Linked DNA regions of Homo sapiens. The protein of the gene in region 1 purifies or fractionates together with the protein of each later gene. This does not show direct contact. Each region holds a gene or a part of one and is shown on either strand. Other genes may lie near its edges.

Region 1 (7,034 bases):
ACCTAAAATAAAAGTTGGAAGGGGAAAAAACTAAAATTATTTGGGAAAAGAGGTGAATTATAATGAACATCAATTTTATTATAAGATTAACTACAAATTCTTGCAGTAAAAGTCTTTAGTCATTTATTTAATTTTAGAACTCAGAAATATTCCATTATAAAAACATTTGCGTCATTGTTACTGGATCACAATAATTAAAGCAAATGATGATTCAGATTAGTGGTCTCAGGACACTAGCTCTCTAATAAACAATGGGTAAAACCATTTGAAAAAATTGTAAGCACCACACCCAATTCCACCCATGTCAACCAAAGACAAATTATCTAGAAGATACAAGTATCAGAATTCAGTCTCTTCAAAAAGGAAAAAAAACAATCATTATGGACCTCTGGCTCAGTCTCCCACACAATGCAAGAATTCCCTTGCCAGCATTCATCATAGGTGGTTACTACTCTTAATTTTTATTTTTGTGATGGGGAACATGTTAGTATATGATTTAAATGGTATTTCAGGTCACTAGGAAAAAGGTGGACTTTTTGTTATTTTAAGATAAAGGAAAAAGATAAAATTGGATCAATTTCTTATACACAAAGACAAATTCCAAATTAGTCGAGTATATAAATATTTTTTAAAAGAAACCATACAGATACTAGAAGAAAATATGGATGAATTTCTCTATAAGAGAAGAAAAAATTTTGCTAGCTAAATTGCTTTAATTGCTTCAAAAATTCGGAAGCAATTAGAGAAAAGATTGTTATAAATTGACAACATAAAAGTAAACTTTTACATGAGAAAAAGCACTGTGAGGAAAACAAAACTACAAAAGACAAACAAAAAATATTTGCAATTTATATCCCAATGGGTTAATAGCCCTAATAAATAAATAGTTTGTAAAAACAGTGTGTTATAGGCTTATAGAATCCAACAGAAAATATTGGCAAGAGGTATGAGCAAACAATTCACACAAAAATGAATGCAAATGGCACTTATGAAAGTATATTCAAACTAATGCATAATAACAGAAGTCCAAATCAAAACTACACTGAGCTACCAATAACAACCCCTCCATTACATTGGCAAAAAGCCAACATGCTCTGTAGGCTGTGGGATAATAAGCATTTATATACATTGCTGGTAGATAAGCAAAATGCCATAACTTCCAGGAGGGGAACTTAGCAATACCTACCAAAATTATATATGTATTTAACCTTTGACCCGGAGGTGCCACTTCTACACTTTTCAGGGCATCATTCTTTGTAGAAACAACCCAAATATCCACAGGAGTTTGAGTGAACAAACTATAATACATCTATACAACTGAATTATATATATAGCTGTTTTCAAAAATGAGAACTATCTCTCGATAATACTATGGATGATACTGTGGAGTGATTTTCGGGATATATTCAGTGAAAACAGCAAGATGGGGAAAAGTGTGCTTAGTGTGCTACCATTTTTTTTTTAAACACAGACGGGGGTCTCATGATGTTGTCCAGGCTGGCCTCAAACTCCTGGGCTCAAGTGATGATCCTCCTGCCTCAGCCTCCCAAAGTGCTGGAATAACAGCTGTGAGAAACAACACCTGGCCAGTATGCTATCATTTAACAAAAGAGGTTGATATGAATACATAACTGTGTGTGTGTGTGTGTGTGTGTGTGTGTGTGTTTGTGTGTGTATTTGCCACAGGGTTTGGCTCTGGCTCTGTCGCCCAGGCTGAAGTGCAGTGGTGTAATCGTGGCTCCACTGCAACCTCCCAGGCTCAAGCAGCCTTCCCACTTCAGCCTCCCAAGTAGTTGGGAACTACAGGCATGCACAAACACGCTGGGCTAATTTTTGTTTTGGGGAGTTTTTGTTTTTTGTTTTGGCAGAGACAGGGTTTTGCCATGTTATCGAGGCTGGTCTTGAACTCCTGAGCTCAAGCATCCGCCAGCCTCCGCCTCCTAAAGTTCTGGGATTACAAGAATGAGGCACCATGCCCAACTTTGTTTATATTTTTAAATGGAAAAGTAAATCTTTGAAAACTTAACATTTGCCTTTAGGAGAAAGTGAACAGGGTAGAGAGAACATGATAGAAAATATCTTGAATTTCGAATCATAAAAGTTTAACATAGTTATAATTTTAAATTTAAAATTGTTAAGCTACTCGGGAGGCTGAGGCAAGGGAATGGCTTGAACCCAGGAGGCGGAAGTTGCAGTGAGCCGAGATCGCACCACTGCACTCCAGCCTGGTGACAGAGTGAGACTCTGTCTCAAAAAAAAAAAAAAAGCAATTTCTAAAATGTAAAAGCAAAGTGAAACATATGAGCCTAACTAGTATAGACTGCGTGACATAACCATACAGAAAGGAATTATTTCAAGTGATATTAAAATGGAGTAATTTGACCGTACATGCCTAGTGCATATATCCTAAAAACAAAATGAACTTCAAAAAAAAAAACCCTTAAGCTGTTTTCAGTAATCATTGTTAATCATATTATGGTATGGTTATTCTGAAATTATATAGTGAAATTATATATTGTAGAACAAAGCAAGTAAGCAACTAAGCTAGTGTTATTAGGAATAAGATTTTTGGTGCAGGAAAAACAACATACAATTATGAAAATGAAAGAGGTTAATAAAATCCTGTAATCTTAAATTTGAGTTGAAAAATATCAGTGTGACCTCATGTTTTCTCTTTAAAAAATGAAAGAAGTATTTTCTAGCTCTGTACATTAAAGGTCTCAAAACAATGACCAACCCAATACCAGTGAGCACCCAGCTTCCAGGTTGTCATCTCTAAATACCATTCCCAGGAATGAGGGCTTCTTGGAAAACAAGCTAATTTCATGAACTTGGCAGGGAATATACCAGATTAGGCTGAACGTCTTGCCATACCAGAGAACAAGGAAGCTATCAAAGGTTACTAGAGGTGTTTCCAAAGGACTCAGGAACATTTGAGCACCTGAATAAGCTACCACTGGACAAATGTTTAATAATTAGAGCATCAATAAGAATAATACGTGCATTGGATTAAAATGCATCCATTTTCTTAAACATTCGTGAATTTGTGATGGTTAAAAAAAAACTCATTGGTCATCCTGAGAGGATCCTAGGAATCCAACTGATTATTCTGAAAACTGGTAAATAAAAGGAAAGGAAAGAACTAAACCTTTAACCTTTCTTTTCTGTAACAACTGTTCTTCGGAGTAACCAAACAGTTGATGAGGAAAAGTTTTCCTTAATGAGTACTCCAGAAAATAAAGAAGTATTGATCAAATTAGAGCATTACCATTTCACAACCCCTAAGGAAATGATCTAAGCAAGGATCATCAGGGGGCCGATAAAAATTATAAAAAGAGTAACCAGATATTATAAATTTTATGACAGAATTACACAGCACTACCAATCAAGTATACTTGCAGAAAAAAAATCAAACCGTCAAACCCGAATTAGATCAAACCTATACAGCTAGCTACCAGTTTACAGGAAATTCAAAGGCTGAAGAACTTGTTAAAAGCCACCATGGGGATAGTCAGAAACATCTGAACTGTGAAAAACTCCAAAGGGAAAATGACGTAATTTCATCAACAGATAAATTGCAAGGAAAGAATAGGGGCTGGGGGCTCTTCCTTTAAAAGAAATTTAAAAGACATACAAAGAGCTGTGTGTGCCCGTTTTCGGGGTCCTGATTTGAACCAACAAATAAATAGACAATGGAAGAAATTTGGATAGTTGACTGAATAGTTGAGGATATTGAGGAATTATTAATATTTTTAGTATTTTGAAGTATGATAATGGTGGTGTGGTTATATTTTAAAAGAGTATATATTGAGATACATTCTGAAATAAATAATTGTAGATAAAATAACAGGATGCAAGGGGTTGGGTTAAAAATAATCAGAAAAAAGTGCAGAAAAATAATCAGAAGAAAAGGTTATAAATAAAATAAATCATGGGTTGATCATTGAATCTAGACAGTATGCTCATGGGAGTTTGTTATCATATCTACTTTTTAAGTATTGAAATTTTTATAATATAAAGTTAAAGAAAAAAATTGTTTAAAAATAAATACCTCTGCTTGTCTGTGTCAACTGTCTACATAATATACTTCATTAAAAAAAATTTCTCCCATCTTTCACTTTTCCAGACTTTCTGACAACTTAGCATTTAGGTTTATACATTTTTCTGTGTTTACTAATACATGTTCTAAGTGTCTACATTTATATTTAAGTACTGGCATTTGTTCTTTTTCCCATTTTATTATAAATTTTATGAAGGCAGAAATTACGTTTTTAGTGCTTTTCTAAATATCCCCAAAGGCTCATCCAATGTTCAGTTGGTTATCATATGTTTAATAATCACTGGTAATGTCTGCAGTGCTACGCTATGCACAATGTCAATAAGATTTTGGACTGCCAGTAAAGAACCTGTAATTTGAAACAAGAAACTTACATTTGTGTCACTATTCTACATTTACCTTAATGAATTCAAATAAATCTGAAGTTCTTATATTTTTATTATTTAGAAACCAACTTTGATCCAGCAGAATGGGGGAGTAAGGTAGAAGACCGCTTCTATAACAATCATGCATTCGAGGTATGGTCCTTTGAAGCTGTTGGATTTGGCTATTTCTTCTCTCTGTCTACAGCTAGCAATTATTAGGCTATCCCCAGAATTGTGAGAATTATGTGAGGAGGCATCACAAATAACTTATTAAATCTTATTAAATTAAAATTTAATAAATCTTATTTTATTAAAAAGATTATTTATTAAAAAGATTTAATAAAAACTTATTAAATCTTATTAAAACTTATTAAATTAAAATTGTGCTGGGATTTTTTGCTGAGAATATTTTTCTAAAGTATCTGAGTCATGTACAGATATTTCACTTAAGTTTAATGATGAACAACAGGAAGAAGGTGCTTAAAAGTTATGAATAATTATTTCATCATTTATTCTTCAAATGTTTTCAGCATCACAGTGCTAAGCAATAGCAGGTACTCCACAAATAATTACTGAATTAATAGATGATATTTCGTAGACCAAAACACTATTAGTCCAATTATTTCATTATCATCGATATGATATTATTGATACAAAAGACCGGTTAGAATTAAAGGTGGTAATGGTGTAGTTTTCTCTATAAAGCTAGCTTTTTCAGAGTCTGAGCCTTTCTCTTTAGCAGCTTTACAAAGACAGCTTTCTCAACCAAGTTTCCTCAAAAAAATTAAGCCCTAAACCAAAGGCACTAATTGCATGTAAGGAATCAGTGTCCTGATTTGTATCTAGAATGGTTCTGGTTAGGTACCATCCTTGGGAGAATTGAGAAAAGAGCTTCTCAAAACATTCTCTGTGTTCCATGGTTCAGATAATGAATGCTGGTTGAGAAAGGCTGTGTGGAATCAGCATTATTGGCATCAACTGGAAACTTGATAGAAATTCAGAGTCTCACAGGAAACATGAAAAACAAGGAAGTATGACACCCCAGAATGAACACAACAGTTCTCCACTAATAGATCATAACCAGAATGAAATTCTTAAAGTCTCAGATAAGGAACTCAAAATACTGATTTTTAAATATGGTCAGTGAGGTGCAAGAGAAATCTGAAAACCAATACAAAGAACTCAGTGAAACAATTCAGGATATAAATGAAAAATTTTACAAGGTGATAGATTTTTATTTTTAAAAAAACCCTAACATAAATTCTGGAATTGAAGAATTTATTGAAGGAAATATAAAATACATTCAAAAGATTTAACAATAGACTAGACTAAGTGGAACAAAAAAATTTTAGAACTTGAATACAGGTCTGAAACAATCCAGTAAGACAAAAATAAAAAAGAATAAACAAAGCCTTTAAGACATTTGGGACAACATAAAGCAGCTGAATATTTGAATTATTGGTATCCGCAAGGACAAAAAGATCAGAAGGCTTAGAAAACCTATTTAATGCAATAATAGATGAAGACATCACAAGTCTAGCAAGAGATTTAAACATCCAGATATAGGCGGTGCAGTGATTCCCCAAATACAATGCAAAAAAAAAAAAAAAGTTTTCACCACAGCACATTAAAATCAAACTGTCTAAAGTCAAAGAGTGAATTCTAAAAACAGCAAGATGAGAACATCTCATCAACTGTGAGGGAAACCCGATCAGACTAATAACCGTACTTCTCAGCAGAAACCTGACAGGCCAGGAGAGAGTGGGATGATAATTCAAAGAGCTGGAAGAAAACAACTATCAGCCAGGAATTCTATATCCAGCAAAATTAACCTTCATAAATGAAAGAGAAATAAAGTATTTCCCAAACAAGCAAATGCCAAGGGCATTCGTCTGTACTAGGCTGGCCCTACAAGAAGTGTTCAAGGAAATCCTAAACTTGGAAGCAAAAAAATGGAAGTTAGCATCATGAAAACACAGGAAAGTATAAAACTCACTGTTAAAGCGACCACACAAAGGAGGAACAGAAATGAATCAAATGGGCCCACTACAGAATTCCACCAGTCCACAATGACAAACAGTAAGAGAAAAAGAAACAATGTATAAAATAACCAGAAAGCAATTAACAATAAGACAAAAGGAACAAAACTCCACATATCAATAATAACTTTAAACATATATGGATTAAATGCTCAACATAAAAGCTATAGACTGGCTGAATGGATTTCTTTAAAAAAAAAAAAAAAACATGATTCAACTATATGCTGCTAATAGGAAACTCACCTTACCTGTAAAAGCATTTAGACTGAAAGTAAAGAAGTGGAAAAAGATATTCCATGCCAACAGAAACCAAAAGCAAGCAGAAGTAGCTATAGTTACATTAGGTAAAACAGACTTTAAGTTAAAAACAGTAGAAAACAACAACAAACAAGTTTATTTTATAATGATAAAGGGATCAATTCAGTAAGAGGATATAACAATTGTAAATATATACACACCCAGCACTGGAGCAACCAGATTCATTAAAAAAAATTTCTATGTCTAAAGACAGAGGTAGACTGCAATACAATAATAGTGAGGGGCTTCAACACCCCACTCATAGCATTAGACAAA
Region 2 (7,034 bases), on another chromosome or scaffold:
TGAATGTCTCTGTTGGATTATCAGCTTACATCTGGTAAAAATTTTGTCCACATCACACAGTGCGTGGTAGACAGCTGATCTTTTCCAGCAGCATATTTCTTTAAATAAGAGTAGGTCAGGGATTGGAAATCTGGTGCCTTCAGAGCTAGGCAGGTAACACAGAGAAGAAAACCAAGCCAGGAAGGGACTTTGGCAGATTGGAGAACATGTATTTCATTAAAGAAACAGCTGCTATCCCACCATAGTTTTATTGTTGCCATGTGGAAATATGGGCTATGTGATGCTGATTTTTCAAGAGAAGCTGGAGATTGAATTTTTATGAAAAATTATTTTAAAATGCTGGCTGGTAATTAATACAACAAACACATATACAACCTACACACTGCTCGATTTATTTGGCCTATAGGCTACCAGTTTTTTACTCCCGAACTAGATAAGCTTACCCAGTTAATTTGTTTCTATTTAATATTGTTTTTCTTTCTTTGTAGTTTTCTGAACGCCTGAAAGTAGTAGATGTGATAGGCACCAAAGTATACAACGATGGAGAACAAATCATTGCTCAGGTATGATATTTTGAAATGTAATTCAGTTTAGGGTTATATTCCAAAAGGTTCCTGTAGTGGTAGATCTTGATAAACTTTTCATATTTCTAAAATTAGTATGCAGTGATGGGTTAAATAAATATTACTTCTACCAAATGACCTGTTAAAAATGGTTTCATTTATAGTCATTACTCTATTGAATATTTTTGTTTATGTAATTAACTCCTAATGAAGGTGTATTAAACCATCAAATGGTTTTCTGCATCATTGTAGTCATTTATAAGAGGAAAAAACAGGTGAATGTTCCATGACATTAATGAGGACCCAGAAAGTACACTGGAAAATTCTATAGAGTTTTGCATGATCAGTTCATGATGAAAATTCCTGAGGCTGCTCCTTGATAAAATTCACCAAGAAAGGAACACACTGCAACATATACTGTTTTGGCTTCCAAGACTACATGTGGGTCAACATGTTATTTAATCCCTAATACTTTTCTAAGATCCCAGCTGGAACCAATAATATTAGATACCTGGGTTGGAGTAGGGCTACCAAAAGTAGAATTTGTGAAGACTGTTGAAGTTCACAGGTAAAGCATGCAGATGATAGTACCTTGTTTCCTAGTTATATTTTTGAAGCACTAAGCAAATGATTAAAATGGATTTTTAATAGATTCTGTAATTTTTGTATCACAGCCTTATACTGTTTTGTGCTCTTTATCTGAAATGCAGTCTTTTCCTTTATATGGGAAACAAGATTCAAGGTCTTTGAGACTGAGAAAAAGAATTGTTTTAGAAGACAAATACATAAGTAAATCTTTCGATCAACACCCCTCTCCCATTGCTGAGTGTGTGTGTGTGTATGTGTGTGTTAGAGCAGTCAGGGATTGGGAAGAAATGGAGTCAAGCAAGGTTAAAGTTCTACTGTATAAACTAGTAAATAACAAAGCAAAGAGCATGTTTTAAATGATTTTTTAAGGTTTTATTTTGAAATAATTATAGATTCACAGGAAGTTGCAAAAATAGTTTTGAGAGGTCCCGTGTACTCTTCACCCAGTTTCTCCTAATGCGTTTTGCATCACTGTTAATAACAATATCAAAACTAGGAAAATGACATTGGCATAATTCACAGACCATATTCAGTTTTCACCAGTTTTACATACACTTAGAGCGTGCTTTAAAAATAGTTAAAAATTACTCAGCAGTTAATAGACCTATTATGATTCAGAACACTCGAAAACTTAATATGAAGCTTTTATGAAAACCTGATACAAGAATAAGGGAAAGGAGATATGCTATACTTAGGGTTTATTAAGGATATTCTTACATATTTGTTGTCTTTTAAGCATTTATAAATATACATATACACCCTATATTCTAAAAATCTAAATTCAACATTTATTTTTGTGATAGAATCAGATGCTAAACTTCTTGAATTTGTATTAAGGAGTTTTGAAATATTTTAAGTTTCTCCAGAATCACTTTGAGAGGCTTAGAGAAGTCAGTGTCTGTATTATTATCTTCCATATTGTATTGTTTAATTCAGACTGCATCATTGGAGATCAAGGCAGAGTTCATTAAGAAACAAAAGCAAGAAAGAACAGGTATATGGGTAGAGCAACACTTTTCTTTTAGAAGTCCTTCCAAAGCCTTGAAATGGAATGTCAGTAGGCTAGCATGTCAGAGTTTGGTCCTCAGTTGACTGTAGTGAAAATGTCAAGGCCCACATCTGCTGCTTCCGGCTCCATCTGGATGCTTTCTGCTCTTTGCAAGTTGATGGCTTATCTTGGGTCACCACACCAATGCTTGCGATGTTAGGATGACGCAGGGTGCATGTCTCGGCACTTCCTCAGGAGCACAGGATCCGCAGACATGTTTCTGCCAACTAAGGGGACGCTGCTGGCATACACAGCAGTGTTGCCATTTCCAACTATGTATGCTGTTATCTAGGCTGAAATTTGGGTGAAATTCTTACCCCAGTGTTGCCACATTTTCTTGGTTTTTTAGCAGAAATACAGTGGTAGAGAATATATTATTTCAAGGCCAGGCACAGTGGCTCACGCCTGTAATCCCAGCACTTTGGGAGGCTGAGGCAGGTAGATCACTTCAAGGTCAGGAGTTCGAGACCAGCCTGGCCAACATGGTGAAACCCCATCTCTAATAAAAATACAAAAAAATAAATAAATACGGGTTCTAGATCCCTGAGGAATTGCTACACTGTCCTCCAAAATGGTTGAACCAATCTACATTCCCACCAACAGTGCAAAAGCATTCCTATTTCTCCACAACCTCACCAGCATCTATCGTTGCTTGACTTTTTAATAATTGCCATTCTGACTGGCGTGAGATGGTTTCTCATTATGGTTTTGATTTGCATTTCTCTAATGATCAGTAATGATCTTTTTTTCATTTTTTTTTTGGCTGCATAAATATCTTCTTTTGATTCTTTTGAGAAGTGTCCGTTCATATCCTTTGCCCACTTTTTAATGGCAGAAATACCATTTGACCCAGAAAACCCATTACTGGGTATATACCCAAAGGAATATAAATCATTCTGCTATAAAGACACATGCACACATATGTTTATTGCAGCACTATTTACAATAACAAAGACATGGAACCAACCCAAATGCCCATCAGTGATAGACTGGATAAAGAAAACGTGGTACATATATACCATGGAGTACTATGCAGCCATAAAAAAGAATGAGATAATGTCCTTTGCAGGACATGGATGAAGCTGGAAGCCATCATTCTCAGCAGACTAACACAGGAGTAGAAAACTAAACACCGAATGTTCTCACTCATAAGTGGGAGTTGAACAATAAGAACACATGGACACAGGGAGGGGAACATCACACACCGGGGCCTGTCAGGGGGTGGGGAGTGAAGGTAGGGAGAGTATTAGGACAGATACCTAATGCATGCGGGGCTTAAAACCAGACAGGTTGATAGGTATAGCAAACCTCCATGGCACATGTATACCTGTGTAACAAACCTGCATGTTCTCCACATGTATCCCTGATTTAAAGTAAAATTTTAAAAAAAGGAAAAAAAAATTAGCTGGGTGTGGTAGCACATGCCTGTAATCCCAGCTACTTGGGAGGGTGAGGTGGGAGAGTCGCCTGAATCCAGGAGGTGGAGGCTGCAGTGAGCTGAGATTGCACCACTGCACTCCAGCCTGGGTGACAGAGCGAGACTCCATCTTGGGGGGGAAAAAGAAAGTATTATTTCAAATAATTTTACAAATGAAATCATTACTACATAATTGTCCATCAAAACCTCTTCATTTAGGGCCGGGCTCGGTGGCTCACGCCTGTAATCCCAGCACTTTGGGAGGCCGACGCAGGCAGATCTCGAGGTCAGGAGATCAAGACCATCCTGGCTAACACGTTGAAACCCCGTCTCTACTAAAAATACAAATAAATTAGCCGGGCGTGGTGGCAGACGCCTGTAGTCCCAGCCACCCAGGAGGCTGAGGCAGGAGAATGGTGTGAACCCGGGAGGTGGAGCTTGTAGTGAGCCGAGATCGCGCCACTGCATTCCAGTCTGGGCAACAGAGTGAGACTCCGTCTCAAAAAAAAAAAAAACCTCTTGATTTAGAAACCGAGACAGCTTGTTCCCTTAGGATTTCACTTTTCAGGTGAATATGTGTACTTTGGGGTTGGATCAATTTTAGGGATATGAAAGGTAACAAGATTGTTGTCAATTAATTTGCATTTTCACCGTCTGTTTTTGTTATTGATTCCAATAGGGAGATTCGGCTGATTCTTTTTTCATTGTAGAATCTGGAGAAGTGAAAATTACTATGAAAAGAAAGGTAAGCATTCTAAGTCCTCAGAACCCACATACTGTTAGCAAGGAACACAACAGATCTACTTTTTGATGTTTAGACTGAGGTTAATTTTATTTTTCATAAGCTGAGGAAAAGCTCATCTTTTTAATTGCCTTGTCAGGGTAAATCAGAAGTGGAAGAGAATGGTGCAGTAGAAATCGCTCGATGCTCGCGGGGACAGTACTTTGGAGAGCTTGCCCTGGTAACTAACAAACCTCGAGCAGCTTCTGCCCACGCCATTGGGACTGTCAAATGTTTAGGTAGGGATTGCAACAGTGGGCGTGCTTCTGCTGGTTGAACTTATGTCTGCATTTTATGTATTCATGTTGAGTGAATCATTTTATTGGGTTCACAGGTTTTGTGGTCCCCACAAAAGGTAACAAGATTAGGACTCATTGCCTTATAAAATCAATTTGTGGAAGCCATTTTTTCTTCGAAATTTTTACATCCAGATACATTTTGCTCTTCTTGTGTATATATGAAATAACATCCCATATTAGTCATTAAAATAAGAGTTCCAAGTACCACGTTTTATATGGAATCTCTCAAATAAGCAACATGTGCTATGTTCCTCAAAAGAGAAGGCTAAAGTACTATTTTTATAAAGTCCGTTATTAAGATCTGCGGGGAATGCTGAGATGTTGTGAGAATCCTTACTCATTACAGTATTGGGACACAAAGGTTCAGGTTTGTCAAAGCACAGTCAAATGTTCTTTGCTGTTCAGTTGTTATTACTATTTTACCAGAGTAGCTTGGCAGAAATGTCATCTTCAGGTGCAGGCATCTGTATATATCTGAGATTATATATCTGAGAAATCACTTACTTTGATAAGAAAATACAGTTTAGAAGGTGGCAATATGGAGGGTATTTTAAGAAAATTGATCTCACAGTTATTACCCTCTCTGTGCTTTTCATCCATAATTCAATAGCATAAACTTAATGTTTTTAAGATTTGCAAGGATCCTTAGAATTAACTTCTTAGAGAAGTCATTCTTTAAAAGGGTTTAAATAAGTATAATATTAATCAAGTGTTAAATTTGGATGGAAGAGAAGACGATTAGAAACTGGCAGGTAATTTCCCTAAGTAGGGCTATTAGAAAGAGTAAAGGTGAGTGAGTGAAAGTCTATTAGAAATAGTAAAGGTGAGTGAGTGAAAGTCTATTACAGTAAAGGTGAGTGAGTGAAAGTCTATTAGAAAGAGTAAAGGTGAGTGAGTGAAAGTCTGTTAATTTTTTTTCAATAATAGATTATTATACTCACATCAAAGAAAACCTGAGAAATACAGAAAATGTAGAAAAAACATAACACCGCCACTCAGTGATTTCTGCTATTATAATTCCTTCTTGTCCTTTTTATTTGTGTGGGCTTCCAGTTGTTAAACAGTTTTCCAAACAACTTTTAAAGTTCATTATCGCTTAGGAATGTTCTTATTTTATTACACCAAATTTTAAAATTCTTTTAGGTAAATATATACACGATAAATTAATCATTCCTTAGTGGTAAATACTTCGAAGGTTTTGGCTCCAACTTTTTTGTGGGGAGCAATTTTTTGTGCATAGAAGACTTTTCTGTATTATAGGAGTTTTCCTTAGAAATGGTTTTCAGGAGTGGGTTTTTAAAAAATTAACTTTTGACACATATTGCCAGATTACTTGTATTTGTACACTACTAGCAGTGCCATAATGCCCATTCACCCTATTCTTGTAAACATTGCCTTTTTTATCTTTTTATCTTTAGTGTAAAAGGCAAAGAAGATCTATTTTAATTTGTACTTTTATGTATAGAGTATGATCATATTTTCTATTTATATATTATAAATCCAGTTTTAAAATCCAGGAGACAGGCAAGCAAAGTGATTTCTAGCATGTACTTATAGAAGTAAACAAAAGCATTATGTCAGCTGCCATTTTTGGATTGCATAGACATAGTATGGCAGCAAAACTTACAAAAGGTTAACACTTGGCCTTCACAACATGGCATTTTAAACCCTGAGAAGGGAACACAGGATAGAAAACACTCTTGTGCCACCCTTGAGGAGTTCACATTGCTAAGGTGGAGACAGCACATTTATTTTTTAAAATTCTAAGGTCTTTCCATGATAGTCCCTCATTCTTTTCTCAGCTTGGACCAGGAACCTCCCACCAACTTAGCATTGCTCATCATATTGCCGAGGGACTGCAGAGTGTGGTCCAAGAGCGTGGCCCTGGCTGCTTCCTTTTTCAAGTGGAACATTTTTATCATTATGCTTTTTCTTGTATTTTATAGTATTTACCTAAAATATCATTGCACTATTGATATATATGGAGTCGGTATTGTAAATGACTTAGAAATTCTGCAGATTTGCAAAGAATGTTATTTAAAAAAAAATCTTCTCTTTTCTCAGCAATGGATGTGCAAGCATTTGAAAGGCTTCTGGGACCTTGCATGGAAATTATGAAAAGGAACATCGCTACCTATGAAGAACAGTTAGTTGCCCTGTTTGGAACGAACATGGATATTGTTGAACCCACTGCATGAAGCAAAAGTATGGAGCAAGACCTGTAGTGACAAAATTACACAGTAGTGGTTAGTCCACTGAGAATGTGTTTGTGTAGATGCCAAGCATTTTCTGTGATTTCAGGTTTTTTCCTTTTTTTACATTTACAACGTATCAATAA

What was found. Proteins that work in one complex are often made in the same cells at the same time.
Region 2: the proteins of SPA17 (region 1) and PRKAR2B purify together in Homo sapiens (affinity purification with mass spectrometry; 3 studies listed by BioGRID and IntAct, with this or other methods). This does not show direct contact.

The regions. Positions count from the first base shown.
Region 1 is NC_000011.10:124,676,885-124,683,918, forward strand, and holds part of SPA17 (sperm surface protein Sp17), read left to right. Parts: intron 1-4,504; coding exon 4,505-4,575; intron 4,576-7,034. UniProt on the Homo sapiens protein: Sperm surface zona pellucida binding protein. Helps to bind spermatozoa to the zona pellucida with high affinity. Might function in binding zona pellucida and carbohydrates.
Region 2 is NC_000007.14:107,152,689-107,159,722, forward strand, and holds part of PRKAR2B (cAMP-dependent protein kinase type II-beta regulatory subunit), read left to right. Parts: intron 1-488; coding exon 489-563; intron 564-4,295; coding exon 4,296-4,361; intron 4,362-4,497; coding exon 4,498-4,636; intron 4,637-6,760; coding exon 6,761-6,894; 3' UTR 6,895-7,034. UniProt on the Homo sapiens protein: Regulatory subunit of the cAMP-dependent protein kinases involved in cAMP signaling in cells. Type II regulatory chains mediate membrane association by binding to anchoring proteins, including the MAP2 kinase.